Linked DNA regions of Homo sapiens. The protein of the gene in region 2 interacts with the protein of the main gene of each other region in a pairwise test. Each region holds a gene or a part of one and is shown on either strand. Other genes may lie near its edges.

Region 1 (9,035 bases), on a different chromosome or scaffold from region 2:
AGTTAAGGCAAATATAACATTTAACTTTTTTAGAAAAAAAGTAGAATTTGAATTGTATGTTATTAAAATCAAATACAGTCAATTCTTGTTATTTGTGGCAGTTATGTTCTCTAACATTGCTAGGAACACTGAATTAGCAAATGCTGAACTCCTCTTTCTAGGGGAAGTACAAGGTAATGTTCCCAAGAACCTCTGGTCACAATATTGCCATCAACCTATCAATATATAACCTTGTTTTATATGGTTTTCCATTTAAAGGCATCATATATAACAGATTACTGGTTCATTAACATTGAAGCCATGGCCAATAGCACTATAATTCATGCTTGAATTAAGCACATCTAATATATATATTCTCCATAATGCCTATGACAGTCTTCTTGTGCTAGCCAGCACTTCAACAATACACATGGGGGCCATTTTAAATAGCCAAATCACCAACAAAAAGCACAAAAATGGAGAAAACATGGCACTAAATAGAAAGCTCTCTCTTAGAGTATGAGCACTGGAACAAGAAGAAAGAATATCGCCTTATTTGACCTCAACTGGGAGCATGCGCATCAGGCTACTCAAATTTTCCGCCGCTCTTCACGTGTCCACTAATAACCTCAAAATTGCCACAAATATTAATTTTAGGATTACAAGTAAATTTTAGCAAGTAGGCAAATTCACAAATACAGAATCCATGAGTAATGAGGATTGACTGTATTACAAATGGAGAAAATGGGGAATTGCGGTCAGACCCAGATCTATTTCAGTCTGAAGACGGCTCTTTCCCACTATTCCTTGCTGCTTTGAAAGAATATTATAGTCTGAATTTTTGAAATTCTTTCTAACTAGTTTTTCCTTATTGATTTTATAAATAATAGTGCTAAAATAATAAAATAATTTCTTTTTTCTTTATTTTAGGCTGAAAAACTTAATTATAAGGATAAGAAGCTGAACATTGGTCCAGCAATAAGAAAACAACAAGTAGGGATCCCTCGTATGTATTGAGAACTAATGTATTTTTAAATATTTTTGCATGGTTCTTTTTTGAAATATAAGACTTTTTATAGAACTTTATTAAAAGATCATGTTTCTTTCATCTAATAAAGTTATTTTAGCAAAGTTGGTGGAAAAACTGAATATTTTTGCCACAAAATAATATATCTCAATTTTTTTGGCTGGGAAAAAATTTATATACATAAAGATGCTTAAGTATATTCCATGTAGTTACATCATTAAAGGAAAAAAAATCTTTCGTGATGAAAATATCATTTAATATAGCAAAAGTAATTAGAAGTAATTTAATAATTTAGACTTACTAATGAGAAAAATTTTAATTAGAAACTAATTTAAAATTAATCAGAGTAAAAATATTGAAAGTGAAAACATAGAACTAATATCAGAAACTCGCTGCATGCTGTGTACTGTAACCCAGCCAGGTGTGTCATAATTTTCAGGGGGACAATCCCTAAAGCTTTAGGAATTGGCTAAATTATGTATCTACCTTCCTCAAATTTCTCTAATGCTTTCAATTCTATCTTTCCTCACTCTTTCTACTTATTAAGTTAGGCATCTTTATAGTTAACTTTTTACCTTTAATATTTATTAAAATTCCTAACAGTCTTTGGCTAGAAGGAGAAATGTGATGTAAAATTTATAACTAACTTATTTTCCCTTAGCCACATCCTAGTGTCTACGGGAATGTTTAAAACATTAGGTTATTATATATAATCTGTTAACAAATTAATAGATTGTATTCATTTGGACTGTTATGCTTTTGACTTAGAAATAATAGATATTTGGTTAATACAGTTGCCACAACTACAACAAAAAAGAGATTGATGTATATTAAGTTTAATTTTGACTTAGTATTTGTTAATTTAGGAGACAATCAAAGTATCCTCAGTAGGTTAATACAAAATGGAATGCACTAAATATGGCAGAATGCTGAATATTTTCAATCTACTGTTGTTACTTGCAAAGGTTAAGCTAGAACATATAGTAACGGTCCGTTAGCCCATTATCACCAGCAATATGTACTAAATAGTAATGCTCATAGTATGATCTACCAGTTGCTGAAATAGAAAATAAATCAGCACTATGCTGAATGCTTTCACATATACAAATAGTTTTTTCAAAACTACTTAGTGCAAGGGTCAATGTTATGAGTTTTCATTTAATCTTCATAGAATCCCATGATGTATTGTTATCTCTATTTTTGTAAATAGAAAATTCAATCCCAAAAAGATAAAGTCATTGTTTTAAAAATGTTTCTGCTGAAATACTCCTAAAGGTAGAGGAGAGTTAATCTTGGCATGTTGTGGTTCCTAACCCACTGCAGCATACTGGAATTGCAAATTTTCTTTAAAGTCTCATGATTTATGCAAAAACATCATGTATAATTTGCATTCTGTTCCATAATATCATATTGTTTATTTGAATATAAAAATATTTCCCAAAAACAATTGAATAAAACTGATTCTGTAGGAAGATTACTATGTTCAGCCTCTGCTTTTTCATATCTCCTGGTATACCATCCATCCCTTATCCAACTTTAAGAAGTATGGGGTTAAATAGCCTAATGGTGAGTGGTAGCACTAGCCTTCAAATGCAGGACTGTTTGACTCCAAAGTTCTTTTGACTTTTCTGCGAAGAAAAATAGGTGTTAAAAGTACATTTACAAATAAGGGATTCTTATCTTAGTTTTTTCTTAGATCTGTCATTTCTTTCCATCTCCATTACCAACACCCGAGTCCCAACTAACCACTTTGTTTACCTTAATTCCTGGAAAAACATCCTAAGTGGTCTCTCTGAATCCAATCTTTCTACCTTCCAATCCATCATTCACAAGGCAGCCAGAGTGATCTTTCAAAAGTGCACCTCTTATTGTCTTATGCTCAGCTTATTTTGAGGTATTCTTCCCTTTTCTTTCCATGCTTTAGCCATGTAGCCTTCTTTCAGTTCCAGAACATTCTATACTCCTGTTCTCAGAATCTAATATACTGTTTTCTTTACCTAGAATGTACTTTGCCATCCAATTCATTCTTTAGAGCTTAGCTGAACATCATTTCATCACAAATTTTCCATATATATGTATATAGAGAGAAATTTTATATATGTTTTGTATACATAATAATTGAAATGTTCAGTATCGTACCCTATAATGCCTCATGTATTTATCAAAATTGTATTTAATTAATTAATTGTGTAATCAACTAATGACTATCTTCACTACCAGACCTAACTTCTTTGAGGATACAGACCATCTCATGTCTAATTTTTTTATTTTTTGCTGTATCACTAGGGCCCTGTTCAATGCCTTGAAATAGTATGCACTGAAAATTTATTTATTTAGCAGGTAAAGCATGGTTCATTTTCTTTGAATAATGAACCATTATTGAATAATGAACCATTATCATTATCTTTGAATAATAGTGGAATATCTTTTGGGGGGAATCCATGGACCTCCAAAATTGTGTGTAAAATTGTGTTTGACTGTATATATATCTGAGGAAAAGGTCCCTGATTTTCATCAAATTCTCAAAAGGATCTAATTAAGAACCATTAAAATAAATAATAACAATACTAGATCAAATGCAGTGAAAATATAAAAGCTGAGGAGCAATAGTATTATTTAAAGTGGTAGGCCCATGCTATTTGAAGTGTGGTTTGCAGACAGTGTCATTTCATTGGAAGCTGTCAAAATGCAAATTCTTAGGCCCTGTCCCAGATTTACTGACTCAAAATCTCTGAAGATAAGTCCCTGGAATTTGCATTTTAGAAAACAATTTAAGTGATTCTAATTTATGGGAAATTTTGAGAAGCACTGGTATAGGTGGAAGAATTGTCAGTTTCACTAATTTATATAACCTTGCTGGTTAAGACCTAATCTAATTTGGCTAATTTAACTTTTAAAGTCTCCTCAATGACAAAAAATATATATATATCTATGTATATTATTTACTGTTTTTTGGTTTGTGGTGGGGGTTTATATAACTTGGCCCGGGAAAAGAGTTGGGGACCCCAGACTAGCCACATGAAGACTTGCGGTCATGTTTGCAACAGCAGCAGTTGTAGCAAAGGGAGACTAGATAGAGAATAGATCATAGAAAAGAGAGATAAAAGACAGCCATAGCATGAACGAATGTTTGCTGGTAGGATATCCAAAGAATTAGTAGGGTGGAACCAAAATGTCTTCAGGAAAGTAGAATCTTCTCCAACTTTACTGCCTCCATCATCTTTGGACTTTCAGAAATAAAAGGTCTAGCCAAGACCTTAGGAACTTCACTACAGTGTATGTTGTCTTGAAGTAACTTTAAATTATACATAATTTATATTTGTACAAATAATTACTTCGCTGATGATAGTCTAAATTGTTCAGCTTTGTGTAGCATACTGGTGTTGGAATCTGAATTGATACATTTTTGGTATTTCTTATTCGTATTGTTTTTCTTTTCTTTTAATCATCTTAAACTAAAAGCTTTAAGGTATTGAGTTTAAAAATACAGGCTTCAAAGATACTTTGACATAAGGAATTTTTTAAAAATATCTGTGACATTCAATTTTTACCATAGCTACATAGGTATATTAAGATAAATATTTTTCTGAAGTGTTTAGAAACTACATTTTTAACAGTTAAATTGAACATTTCAATTATTATTATTTAATCTTTGCTTTAGGTTCTAGTATAATGCCAGCAGCTGGAACAATGTATCTAACAACTTCAACTGGATATCCTTATACTTACCATAATGGTGTTGCTTATTTTCATACTCCAGAGGTAACTTCGGTCCCACCGCCTTGGCCTGTAAGTAATTTCATTTAAAAAAGGATTTCCATCTATTACTATCAATTTTTTAATGTTTGTTATATTTCTGAAATATCTTAACCACAGATAATTACAAATAATAACACACATCAACCAAATTAAATAGACATCAACATTTTGCCACATTTACTTAAGTTCTTAAAATGGGGAGTAAAGTAAGACAGCTTCAGGTCAATTCTCCTTACCCCCACTTCCTTACCCTCTTTCCTGTTCAAAAGTAAGCAGAATATCTTTCCTATTCATTTTATATATTTTTACTACAAATATATGTATTCATAAATGACATATAGTACTGCTTTAGTGGTTTTTATTTTTTATTTTTTGCATTTCTTTTTTTTATATACTTTAAGTTCTAGGGTACATGTGCACAACGTGCAGGTTTGTTACATATGTATACATGTGCCATGTTGGTGTGCTGTACCTGTTAACTCGTCATTTACATTAGGTACATCTCCTAATGCTATCCCTCCCCCCTCCCCCCACCCCACAACAGGCCCTGGTGTGTGATGGTCCCCATCCTCTGTCCAAGTGTTCTCATTGTTCAATTCCCACCTATGAGTGAGACCATATGGTGTTTGGTTTTCTGTCCTTGCAATAGCTTGCTCAGAATGATGGTTTCCAGCTTCATCCATATCCCTGCAAAGCACACGAACTCATCCTTTTTATGGCTGCATAGTATTCCATTGTGTATATGTGCCACATTTTCTTAATCCACTCTATCATTGATGGGCATTTGGGTTGGTTCCAAGTCTTTGCTATTGTGAATAGTGCCGCAGTAAACATACGTTTACATGTTTCTTTATAGCAGCATGATTTATAATCCTATGGGTATATACCCAGTAATGGGATGGCTGGGTCAAATGGTATTTCTAGTTCTAGATCCTTGAGAAATCGCCACACTGACTTCCACAATGGTTGAACTAGTTTACACTCCCACCAACAGTGTAAAAGTGCTCCTATTTCTCCATATCCCCTCCAGCACCTGTTGTTTCCTGACTTTTTAATGATCGCCATTCTAACTGATGTGAGATGGTATCTCACTGTGGTTTTGATTTGCATTTCTCTGATGGCCAGTGATGATGAGCATTTTTTCATGTGTCTTTTGGCTGCATAAATGTCTTCTTTTAAGAAGTGTCTGTTAATATCCTTCACCCACTTTTTGATGGGGTTGTTTGATTTTTTTCTTGTAAGTTTGTTTAAGTTCTTAGTAGATTCTGGATATTAGCCCTTTGTCAGATGGGTAGATTGCAAAAATTTTCTCCCATTCTGTAGGTTGCCTGTTCACTCTGATGGCAGTTTCTTTTGCTGTGCAGAAGCTCTTTAGTTTAATTAGATCCCATTTGTCAATTTTGGATTTGTGGCCATGGCTTTTGGTGTTTTAGACATGAAGTCCTTGCCCATGCCTATATCCTGAATGGTATTGCCTAGGTTTTCTCCTAGGGTTTTTATGGTTTTGGGTCTAACATTTGAAGTCTTTAATCTATCTTGAATTAATTTTTGTATAAGGTGTAAGGAAGGGATCCAGTTTCAGCTTTCTACATATGGCTAGCCAGTTTTCCTAGCACCATTTATTAAATAGGGAATCCTTTCCCCATTTCTTGTTTTTGTCAGGTTTGTCAAATATCAGATGGTTGTAGATGTGTAGTGTTATTTCTGAGGCCTCTGTTCTGTTGGTCTATATCTCTGTTTTGGTACCAGTACTATGCTGTTTTGGTTACTGTAGCCTTGTAGTATAGTTTGAAGTCAGCTAGCGTGATGCCTCCAGCTTTGTTCTTTTTGCTTAAGATTGTCTTGGCAATGTGGGCTCTTTTTTGGTTCCATATGAACTTTAAAGTAGTTTCTTCCAATTCTGTGAAGAAAGTCATTGGTAGCTTGATGGGGATGGCATTGAATCTATAAATTACCTTGGGCAGTATGGCCATTTTCACAATATTGATTCTTCCTATCCATGAGCACGGAATGTTCTCCCATTTGTTTGTGTCCTCTTTTATTTCGTTGAGCAGTGGTTTGTAGTTCTCCTTGAAGAGGTCCTTCACATCCCTTGTAAGTTGGATTCCTAGGTATTTTATTCTCTTTGAAGCAATTGTGAATGGGCGTTCACCCATGGTTTGGCTCTCTGTTTGTCTGTTATTGTGTATAGGAATGCTTGTGATTTTTGCACATCGATTTTGTATCCTGAGACTTTGCTGAAGTTGCTTATCAGCTTAAGGAGATTTTGGGCTGAGATGATGGGGTTTTCTAAATATACAATCATGTCATCTGCAAAGAGGGACAATTTGACTTCCTCTTTTCCTAATTGAATACCCTTTATTTCTTTCTCCTGCCTGATTGCCCTGGCCAGAACTTTCAACACTGTGTTGAATAGGAGTGAAGAGAGAGGGCTCTACGCCAATAAACTAGAAAATCTAGAAGAAATGGATAAATTCCTGGACACATACACCCTCCCAAGACTAAACCAGGAAGAAGTTGAATCTCTGAATAGGCCAATAACAGGCTCTGAAATTGAGGCAATCATTAATAGACTACCAAATAAAAAAATTCCAGGACCAGACAGATTCACAGCCGAATTTTACCAGAGGTACAAAGAGGAGCTGGTACCATTCCTTCTGAAGCTATTTCAATCAATAGATAAAGAGAGAATCCTCCCTAACTCATTTTATGAGGCCAGCATCATCCTGATACCAAAGCCTGGCAGAGACACAACAAAAAAAGAGAATTTTAGACCAATATCCTTGATGAACATTGATGCAAAAATCCTCAATAAAATACTGGCAAACCGAATCCAGCAGCACATCAAAAAGCTTATCCACCATAATCAAGTTGGCTTCATCCCTGGGATGCAAGGCTGGTTCAACATCACGAATCAATAAACATAATCCATCACATAAACAGACCCAACGACAAAAACCACATGATTAATCTCAATAGATGCAGGAAAGGCCTTCGACAAAATTCAACAGCCCTTCATGCTAAAAACTCTCAATAAACTAGGTATTGATGGAACGTATCTCAAAATAATAAGAGCTATTTATGATAAACCCACAGTCAGTATCATACTAGATGGGCAAAAACTGGAAGTATTCCCTTTGAAAACTGGCACAAGATTTTTTCTTCTTTTTTAGTTTTTTGTTTTTTACTACAAGAATATATGCTATTTTTTATTTTTAATGCTATAGTATTGCCACTTTTCACTTCTAGATCTTAAATCTTGAATTTATGTATCGACTAATCCACCTATTTCCTGCTATTTTGAAATTAATCCTCTGCCAAACACTAAGTTTCCATGTGTGTGGGTCTTTTTTCTGCTATTTTGTTCCATTGGTGTATTTGTTCACCTTGCCCAGTTGTAATTATTTTGACTTTATAACGAGTCTTGAAATCTTAAAGTACATTGTTCATCTTCAGGAGTCTCTCATCTATCCTTATGTCTTTGCTTTTATGTGTATAAATTTTTTAATTCAGTTTGTTTAGTTCAGTGAAAAGCCCTTTTTTTTATTAGAATTGCATTAAATAGTGTGAATAACTTGGGACATTTCAGTATTTTAAAATATTGAATCTTCCTATCCATGAACATGATACATCTCTCCATTTATTTGTCTTATTTTACTTCTATCCATAAAAAAGTTTTCTTTCTCCATAAAAAAGCGTGACACATTTTGTCAAATTTATTCTTAGTAGACTATAGTTTTGTTGCTTTAATGAATGCTGTTTTTTAAATAACATTTCCTAATAGATTGTAGCTGGTGTATAGTAATGCTCTTGATTTTTCAATAGTGATAATCTATCAGTAACCCTGCCAAACTCTCATTTACACAATTATTTATGATTCAGTGTACTTCTATTTCTTTCACTTCTTTTTTTCCTGGAGTTTTTGCACTGACCATGTCTCTGCTACAGTATTGATGTAGTGAAAACATCATGACCTTGTTCTTGAAAAAGGGAGCAATTTCAGTGATTCACCATTAAACTTTACATGTATGCATGCATGTATACATACATATATAGACACACACACGCATACTTTGTAAGTGGGAAGATACTCTTAACCAGACTTTCTCAATCTTAGCACTGTTGACATTTTGAGCCAGATTATTTCTTTGCTGTGAAGGTCTGTCCTGTGCACTGTAGGATGTTTAGAAGTATCCCTAGGCTCCCCATAGTTATGATAATCAAAAATGTCTCCCAACATTGCCAGATGTTCCCTATAGGACAAAATCAC
Region 2 (8,951 bases):
AGAAAGACCCACCCAGAGAGATAGCCACGCAGTCAGACACTGAGAGTGGGAGTGTGAGAGAGAGGGACAGAGAGAGAAGGGGTAGACAGAGGAGGCAGAGAAAAAGGAAGAAGAAAAGACATAGAAAGACTCACAGAAAAAAGAGCTAGACGGGTGGAGAGGAGAGACAGAGATAACAAAGGACAGGGTCAGGAGAGGGGAAAGGACACAGATGGGGAGCACACAGGAGGCGCAGGGCCAGACACACTCACAGGCCGAAGCAGAAAGAGGCTCACGAGAACTACACAAGGACAGACAGCCTCAGGACCCAGAGACACTCTCCTGGGAGACGTGGGGGGAGCCAAAGTGCTTGGGGGTCGAGCCCCACTGGGGGTGGCCTCACCAGGGCAATGCTGCTGCCTCCTGTCCCAAAAGCTTAACCAACCGCTGCCGGCATCTGGCCCCCAGCCACCCTCTAGTAAGCCAGCCCTTGGCCACTGGAGCCAGTGGGTCACCCAAGGTGAATGAAAAGTCACCAATAAGGGACAGTGAGAGTGTGACTGGGGTGAAGGTATGGGTGTCACAAGCCATGTGTGTCAGGGTGGGTCTGACCTGGGGTGGGGTTTAGGAGCGCACAACCCTATACACAGACCTCTGGGGGTTAGTGCAGGCGGGCATGCGTACCTGAGTGAGTTTGTGAGTGTCTGTACACGTGTGTGGATCCAGTTCCATTAAGAGCCTCACGATGCTAATGAGGCCAACGTGGCAGGCTGTTCCTCAAATAGCCCAATCAGAAACAATGAGTGAGCAGAGACAGCCACAATAAAGGTTTCATGCCTCTTCTGAACAGACGGTGTGTCCAGGTGCCACAGGGCACTTGACTACAGTCAACACCAGCGTACCATTCATTCCCGCTGGGGATGACCCCCGCCGCCTGGCCAGCTGACCCCACAGTCTCCCCTGTCCCAAGCCCAAACTCCAAACTCATGGGAGAACCCACATGATAGACACATGGGCCCTCCCGGGTGGCAGGCGCAGCTCCCTCTGAGAAGGGCAGCCAGAGGGATGGTGGGGTCCAACCCTGGCTTTCCCCCAGGCTAGCTTCCATCCCTCCTGCTGCTGCGGCCCCATTTAGCTCTCTCCTTGCTCCTGGGGTCCAGTGACCCACACCCTCACCACACACAGGAGAGAAGTAACCTCTCCTCCCCAGCCCTTCCCTCTCAAGCATCACAGGACATTAAAAAAAAAATTGTCCCAGTTTTGTGGTGGATAATGAGGTCAGGAGGCCCACAGGGGAACTGCTTGTTGATGACAACTGACAATCTTCATTTCACCTTGAAACTCCGTCCTGGTCCAGGTAAGCATGTTCTAAGCCCAGTTTTATAGGGGTGCTACTCTACTGGGGGACAGGGAGAGTGGGGAAGGAATTAACCAAATGGCAGCTGAAGTCACAGGCCCAGCCAGGCCCACCTGGAACACTCACAGGGCCTGGGGCAAGGGGACAAATGGCGGCCCACAGACATATGTCTAAATATTTAAAAGTTATAAATCAAGCCAGCAAACTGTGAAATATGTTCTAACCTCTCACCCTGACAAATACACCTTCATTAACAACCTGGAGGACCAGATACAAATTTGGATTTATCTGCCTCCTGAGCTTTACACATCAGAATGACTCTGTGCAGAGGAGACAGCTCCACTCGCACCCTGGCCACCCCCCTTCCTGCTGCCGGGTCCTGTCTGCACCACAAGGGACTCTTGTGCATGTATAAGGACACCCAGCCTCATGTCCTTGCTCCATCCACAGCCCCTGCAAATAGCTGTCCCTTCACTGTCCGTAGGGGTGCACACACTATTGGCATAACCTGTCCTGAGGCAGACAGGCCCAGGGAAGAGGCTGGCATGGGCTGGGAGCCAGATGGTGACCATCTAGGCAGGGACCTCCAGAGTCACAGGTATGGAGAATGTGGTCTTGGAGGGGACTCACAGTCTCATCCCCTCGGCCCTGCTGATGCCTCATCCCACAGGGAGAGGACTGGCAGCAGGAGGGCCAGAGTGGAGCCTTTGAAAGCCCCCAGCTTAGGGCATGGGCACTCCCTCCCTTGCCCAGGTTTAAGGGTGCTACTGAACTCAGCCTTCCCTGGCAGCCTAGAGATCAGGCCAGGGCCTGAAGCTGTCCTTTCACTGGAGGACAGCTTGGACAATCCCCAAACAGGACTTTCAGTCACTCGTATTATTTATCTTCCTGGAAAAATTTAGTGCGGCTTGATCCCAACTCCTGGAGGTGGGAGGGCAGAGCAGTGATGACAAGAGGGCATTTTTTTCAGGTTGGGTCTCCAAGCCAGAGCTTGTTCCACTGAGGCACAGCCCAAGTGAGCTCCTGCTGGTACTGGTCCCTGCCTTGGGCGGGGGCGGGGGGACTCTCTCCCCTCTACAGAGACAAAAGGCAACACAAACAAGGTGACTAAAAGAGGAGGAGGTGAGGGGCCCTGGGCAGCCCAGAGAGGTCCAGAGATCCAGGAACCAGCAGGGGGCAGGTTCCCCCTGGTAGGGGGGCATGCAGTGAAGGGCACTCTTTCTAGCCAAGCTTAGCTAAAAAAAAAAAAAAAAAAACCCTTCCACTCCCCCCTCCCCTGCTCGCTCTCACTCCCTGCAGATCGGCTTTGCTGTCCCACACATGAGGGGACACTGGTACTTTCTGAGCCCTCGCCAGGCTCCAGGCACTGTGCTAAGCGCTCTACATGTGTACCCTCATTTAACCCTTGCAGCCACTCTATGAGGTGGGTTCTATTATTATCCCCATTTTACAGGTGATTAAGTGAACTCAAAGAGGTTAAGAAACTTGTTCAAGGTCACGCAGTAGGTAGAGGTGTCAGAACTCAGCTCTAACTGACCCCAAAGCCCCCACTCTTTCCACTAGAGCACATGGCCTCCCAGAAGCAAGAAGCTGGCACAGACCCAGAAGGGATGAAGGTCGGATATGAGAACGAACTTCTGCCTCTGATGGTTTGTGTGGTGAAATGAGGCAATGGAATGGGGAATCTAGACAGACAAGGAAGCCCCCCTCCCCCCATTGTCACCCGTGTCTGTCCAAAGGCTTGCGATGATCTCAGGAAGGTCCCTGGGGTCCCAGCTGGACCCAGACAGCAATGTCCTGACTTCCCTTTGTTCTATAATCCAGGGTCCTCTGCTCTACTTCAACCCAGCACCAAGACCCAAAGGCTGCCTCTCCTTAGTGGCTCAGAGCTCTGAGCATCACATTCAAGCTGTCAGCCCAGGTCCTCCTCCTCCAGGAAGGCTTCCTCGAGGTCCTGGGAGGCAGGACCCCTTTCCTACAGCCCAAATCCCAACACTGAGGGTGCAAATGCTCCCCTGTCTGCAATAAGGCCACATCTGCGATCACCTTCCCCAGCCGGCTCTGTGACACAGACACAGAAAAGATCTACTGAGTTCCCAGACTTTCCGGGTTCCCTAGGCCATCGGGGTAATCCCCTGCTCACCCCCTTGTACCCAGATGTAAATAAATGATGCAGGTGCCCTGGGGCTCATTAGAAAATCCCAGGCCCCAGCTCAGCTATGCGGCGGCTTTTACCTCATTAGCCCACGGAACAGAAGCCCAGTTTGGGTCAAGCCATCACCCCCTAGGGTGGGGAAGAGGCTGCCCTTGGATGAGGCATGGCGCACTCTCAGTCAACGAGGTTCCTTACTCCGGACCCCCGTCCTCACCATCCCCAACCTGCCCCACTCCAGAAAGCTGCGTGTCTAATGCCCGGCTCTTTCTTTTCCATCCTTTGGAGCCCGCCTGGCATCAGGGATAACCAGCCAGGACCCTCTAACTGCCCCAGAGTTCAGTCCCGCCCAGCAGATGCCCAACGTCGGCGCTCAGAGCCGAGATAGGGATATCCTCACTGTCCCTTGGGGTCCCCCAATTTTGAGGCGAGAGGACCGGACAGGTGGAAGAGGCTGCCTCGTTCTCCCGCGCTGCCCTCGAGGTCCTCGGCGTGGACTAGCCCGCGTCGCCGTCTTACCTGCGGGGCAGAGACGGAGCCCGCCGCGGCCACCTGCTCTCGCCTGGCTGGGAACGCTGCGTGTGGGGCTGGCTGGGAGGGGCGGGGCCCGGCGGGGCAGGGGCGGGGCTGGGAGGGGGAGCCGGGCCGGCCCCTCCCTCGAGGCCCCGCCGGTGGGGTGCGCGGGCTCATTCAGGTGGGAAGTCCCGGGAGAGCATCTGAGCCACAGGGAGGGCCCGGAGCTCGAGTTCTGAAGGCTGGGAAGTTAGGACTCCAGGGGGTGCGGGGGGTGGGTGGGAATTCCCCGCTTCAGACAGCCTCGCCCAGATGCCCTGGAGAGGGTGACTTCATATAAAGACCCCTCACACGAAGAAGAAAGCTCAGAAACCTCTCCTGGCCTGAGTCCCCTTCCATCTGAGCTCTTCGGGCCTGGCAGGGTTGGGTGTGAGACGGGACACTCCTCTAAAGTAAGGGTGCCCTCTCCAGGGCTCAGCTGTGTAGGGGTTTAGGCCGCTGAGGGGGCCATTAGGCAACCAGACCATCTTTATCCTCAGCCCATCTCCCTCCCTGCCACACAGCCCCTCCTCCGCCCCCAGCGCCAGCCCAGGTCCCCCAGCTGTCACTGTTTAGCCCTGGAATGACAGGCGTCCTGACTCCGTGAGTCTAGCCACATTCAAGGCCTTTGAGCTTAGCACCCCTGAGCCCCTGCCCCCTCCCTCTGCCCCCAGTCGCTAATTTTATTGACCTGTAAAAGGCACGTTGCTGGCAGGCAGTATACTAACTGAAGGCAAAGTGGGGAGCGGATGGGCAACTCTCCCCCCGGGAAGGCAGCTGGAGATGGGACAGGAGGGAGGAGGAAGGAGACTCCTGGATCCAGGGCCAAGGACACTTTGAGAGGAGGAAGAGGGGGGCCTTGGGAAAGAGAAGTACACTGTCTATGGGAGATGGTAGCCAAAAAGACGGGAACGGGAATTTCAGCCCTCAATCAGACAAGAGGCCTACAGAAAAAAGAAAATGCTGGGAGAAGACAGGGTGCATTTCTCATCTACCTGGGGACAGAACCAAGAATGTAGCAGGAGGGAAGGAGGTTGGACGGCAGGAAGGACTGCCATCCTGCTCTCAAATCTCTGCCCTAGCCCCCTCCCTTCCTCTTGAAGGTGTCTCCTGCCTGCTGGGCCTTGTACTACAGAAATAGCCCTTTCCCTGATGAAGCAACCTAGATCTTGCCTTTCTTTTTCTTTCTTGTTAAAATGAGAACAGAAAATTTAGGCCTTTGTAATTTTCCCCACCCCCGTGCCTACCTGAGCCCACCCCTCAAACCCTGGATCTCAGCCTTTCCCCAGCCTAGGGGAGATGATCTGAGGGTTAAGGGAAGGTGGAGAGGGGAATATCGGGGTTGGAAGCTATTATGGGGTAGGGGGAGCAGGAAGCCCTCACACTCTTGATGGGCCTCAAGTTTAGACTGTTGATACCCTTTATGAATAAGGCTTAGGAGGGCTATTAAAGAGGAGTGTTTAAAACTTCTTTTATTTTTTTATTTTTGAGATGGAGTCTTACTGTGTTGTCCAGGCTGCAGTGCAGTGGCATGATCTCGGCTCACTGCAAACTCCGTCTCCCAGGTTCAAGTGAGTCTCCTGCCTCAGCCTCCTGAGTAGCTGGAATTACAGGGGCCTGCCACTATGTGAGGCTAATTTTTGTAATTTTTAGTAGAGATGGGGTTTCACCGAAATGGCCAGGCTTGTCTCCAACCCCTGACCCCAGGTGATCTGCCCACCTCGGCCTCCCAAAGTGCTGGGATTACAAGCGTGAGAAAATGCGCCTGGCCTAAAACTTTTAACACTAGGTCAGGCACAGTGGCTCATACCTGTGATCCCAGCACTTTGGGAGGATCACCTGAGCCCAGTAGTTGGAGATCAGCCTAGGCAACATAGTGAGAACTTGTCTGTACACTGCCCCTCTACCCCCCAAAAATTAGGTGTGGTGGTATACATCTGTAGTCCCAGGTACCAGGGAGGTTGAGGTGGGGGGATTGCTTAAGCCTGGGAGGTTGAGGCTGAAGTGAGCCATGATTGTACTACGGTACTCTAGCTTGGGCGACAGAGCGAGTCCCTGTCTCAAAAACAAAATAAGAACAAAAACAAAAAAAAAAAGGCCGGGCCCAGTGGCTCATGCATGTAATCCCAGTACTTTAAGAGGCCGAGGTGGGTGGATCACCTGAGCTCAGGTGTTTGAGACCAGCCTGTTGGGCAACATGGCGAAACCCTGTCTCTACCAAAAATACAAAAATTAGCCAGGCATGGTGGCAGGCACCTGTAATCCCAGCTACTTGGGAGGCTGAGGCAGGAGGATCACTTGAGCCCTGAAGGCAGAGGTTGCAGTGAGCTGAGATCGCGCCACTGCACTCCAGCCTGGGCGACAGAGTGAGACTGTCTCAAAAAAGCCAAACACTTTTAACACTAAAAATTACAAAGCAGGTCATTGGATGGGGAAGGGTGAGAGGTATGGATTTCAATGGGGAACCAGGAAACTTTTGTTGTTCTTTGAAAATTCCACTGGAAGAAACAGGACATTTTGAGGGTGATGGCTATGTTCATTATCTTGATCGTGGAGGATATGCATGTTAAAATGTATCCAGGCCAGGGATGGTGGCTCACGCTTGTAATCTCAGCACTTTGGGAGGCTGAGGCAGGCAGATCGCCTGAGGTCAGGAGTTTGAGAACTACCTGGCCAACATGGTGAAATCCCATCTCTACTAAAAATACAAGAAATTAGCTGGGCATGGTGGCGGGCACCTGTAATCCCAGCTACTTGGGAGGCTGAGGCAGGAGAATCGCTTGAACTCAGGAGGTGGAGGTTGCAGTGAGCCAAGATCGTGTGACTGTACTCCAGCCTGGGCAACAAGAGTGAAACTCCATGTCAAAAAATAAAACAATTTTAAAAAAGTACCCAATTGCACACTATACAAGCAGTTTATTTTCTACCAATTATATTCCAACAAAATTAAGACACCACACATTTTCTATCCCATTTTTTCATTTATTTTTATGAGGAGCCTCAAAAAATAGAAGTGGCCTTGGTAGGGAAGGAATGTCGTGATTCTGAGTACAGTATGGCAAATTCTTTTGCCTCAGTTTCCCTAACTCCATCCAGTGCATATGAAAATGTCTATGTGCGTACAAGGTAGGTCTGGACTAAGCTCTGGCCCTCCGGTTGTTTTCCCATTGCGGGAGCCTAAGCCAGGGTGCCCAGGACTCCTGTGTGGCTGGTGGGCCTGATGCCCACAGCTGATGATTCAGGAAGGAGGGGCCTGGAGTCTGCTGCAGACTCTCCCGCCCCCTACAGCCCAAACCGGGCACTGCAGCAATGAGGTGGTCAGTCCAGGGAGAGGTCCGACAAGTTCTCGGCACAATGCTGCAGGAAGTCAAAGTCAGGCACGGAGAAGGGCACGCGGGACCACTTTTTGGCCTGGATCCGCCCCTGAGGGGTCTCCAGCAGCATGCTGCGGACTTTGAGCACTGGCAGCTTCACTGACTTGTAGATCATCTGCAGACCCCAGACCTGGAGGTGAGACAGAGAGGGTAGGGTCTGGGTCTCTGGCCTCAGACTGGGCTTCTCTCCTCAAGTTGGAATTCCCTGAATACAGGGCCTTTTCCTCCCACCTGAGATGTCACAGACTGTGGGCTCCCTTAGGGAGGGGCTGGACCTCCCTCTTCAGACTGGAGGCCATGGGGTGGGACTGTCTCCCGTGTCCTAGTGAGGGCTCCCTGAGGGCCTCTGAAGACTGGGGCTGAGGACTCTGGGGCCTGGGACGTGGCCTAAGCTCTTACCTCCCCACAGTTCCTGCAGCTGATGACACCCCCAGGCTTCCAGTCCTTGAAGACTTTGTTGATGACCACAGGATCCCTGGAGACATTATAGTAGTTCCTGGAGAGGAAGGGGGGTGGCCACAGCCCTCATTGACCCTCCTCAGCCCCGGATCTCATGCCCTCCTGCCGGCCAAGTCTCTGCCTGGACCTTGGGCCTTCCTGCTGGTTAAGAGGCACAGACTTCCCAGGCCAGGAAATCCAATCTTTGGTGAGTTCTACCTGTGTGGCCTCCATCGCACGTTCCCTTGTGCCCAGGTTCAAGCCTCAGCATCGGTTACCTGGTCTTCACAGTCTCCTTATGGGTCTCTCTGCCTCCATTTTTACTCCCAATCCCAAGCCATCCTTCCACCAACTGCTAGAGGGATCTAAAAATATAAATCTGCCCTGACATTCTGTTCCTTAAAATCTATCCAAGATTCCTAAGAGGAACCTCCTGGATAAAGGCTACACTTTCACACCTGACCTTTCAAATCTTCCACGGGCTAGTCTGTCTTTTTCTAAATCTCATTATTCACAGTCCCTTCCACTCAGGTCAACTGGTGTCGCTTTTTTTTTTTTAAAGGCAGAGTCTCACTCTATTGCCCAGGCTGGAGTGCAGTGGTGCGATCTTGGCTTGCCTCCCGGGTTCAAGTGATTCTCATGCCTCAGCCACCCAAGTAGCTGGGATTACAAGCATGGGCCACCACGCCCAGCTAATTTTTGTATTTTTTTTTAGTAGAGAAGGGGTTTCAATATGTTGGCCAGACTGGTCTTGAACTCCTAACCTCAAGTGATCTACCCACCTCCGCCTCCCAAAGTGTTGGAATTACAGGCGTGAGCCACTGCACCTGGCCCTCCATGGTTACCTTCTCATTCGCTCACATTCAAACCAGACCCATTGAGACCTAGCTGAAATGCAACCTCCTCAATTGAGAAAATCTGTGTGAAGATCCTTGGCACAGTGGCCCGGAACACAGAGGGTAACATAATGAATGGATGGAGGATGGGGGAAGGTTACTCTCTAGGAGATAGTGGATGGAGGATGGCCCAGGGATGGCCAAGCTCTCTTGATATCTTCGGAATAGGTAGGACCAGAGGGTCAATGTGTGGTCTTTTGACA

Evidence for each region.
Region 1: the proteins of ZNF385C (region 2) and BOLL interact in a two-hybrid assay, tested with the Homo sapiens proteins (2 studies listed by BioGRID).

Annotation. Positions count from the first base shown.
Region 1 is NC_000002.12:197,767,615-197,776,649, reverse strand, and holds part of BOLL (protein boule-like), read left to right. Parts: intron 1-909; coding exon 910-985; intron 986-4,667; coding exon 4,668-4,795; intron 4,796-9,035. UniProt on the Homo sapiens protein: Probable RNA-binding protein, which may be required during spermatogenesis. May act by binding to the 3'-UTR of mRNAs and regulating their translation.
Region 2 is NC_000017.11:42,094,403-42,103,353, forward strand, and holds the start of ZNF385C (zinc finger protein 385C), read right to left. Parts: upstream 4,072-8,951; 5' UTR 4,008-4,071; intron 1-4,007. Other genes in the region: ATP-dependent RNA helicase DHX58, read right to left, coding at 7,359-7,544, 7,814-7,910.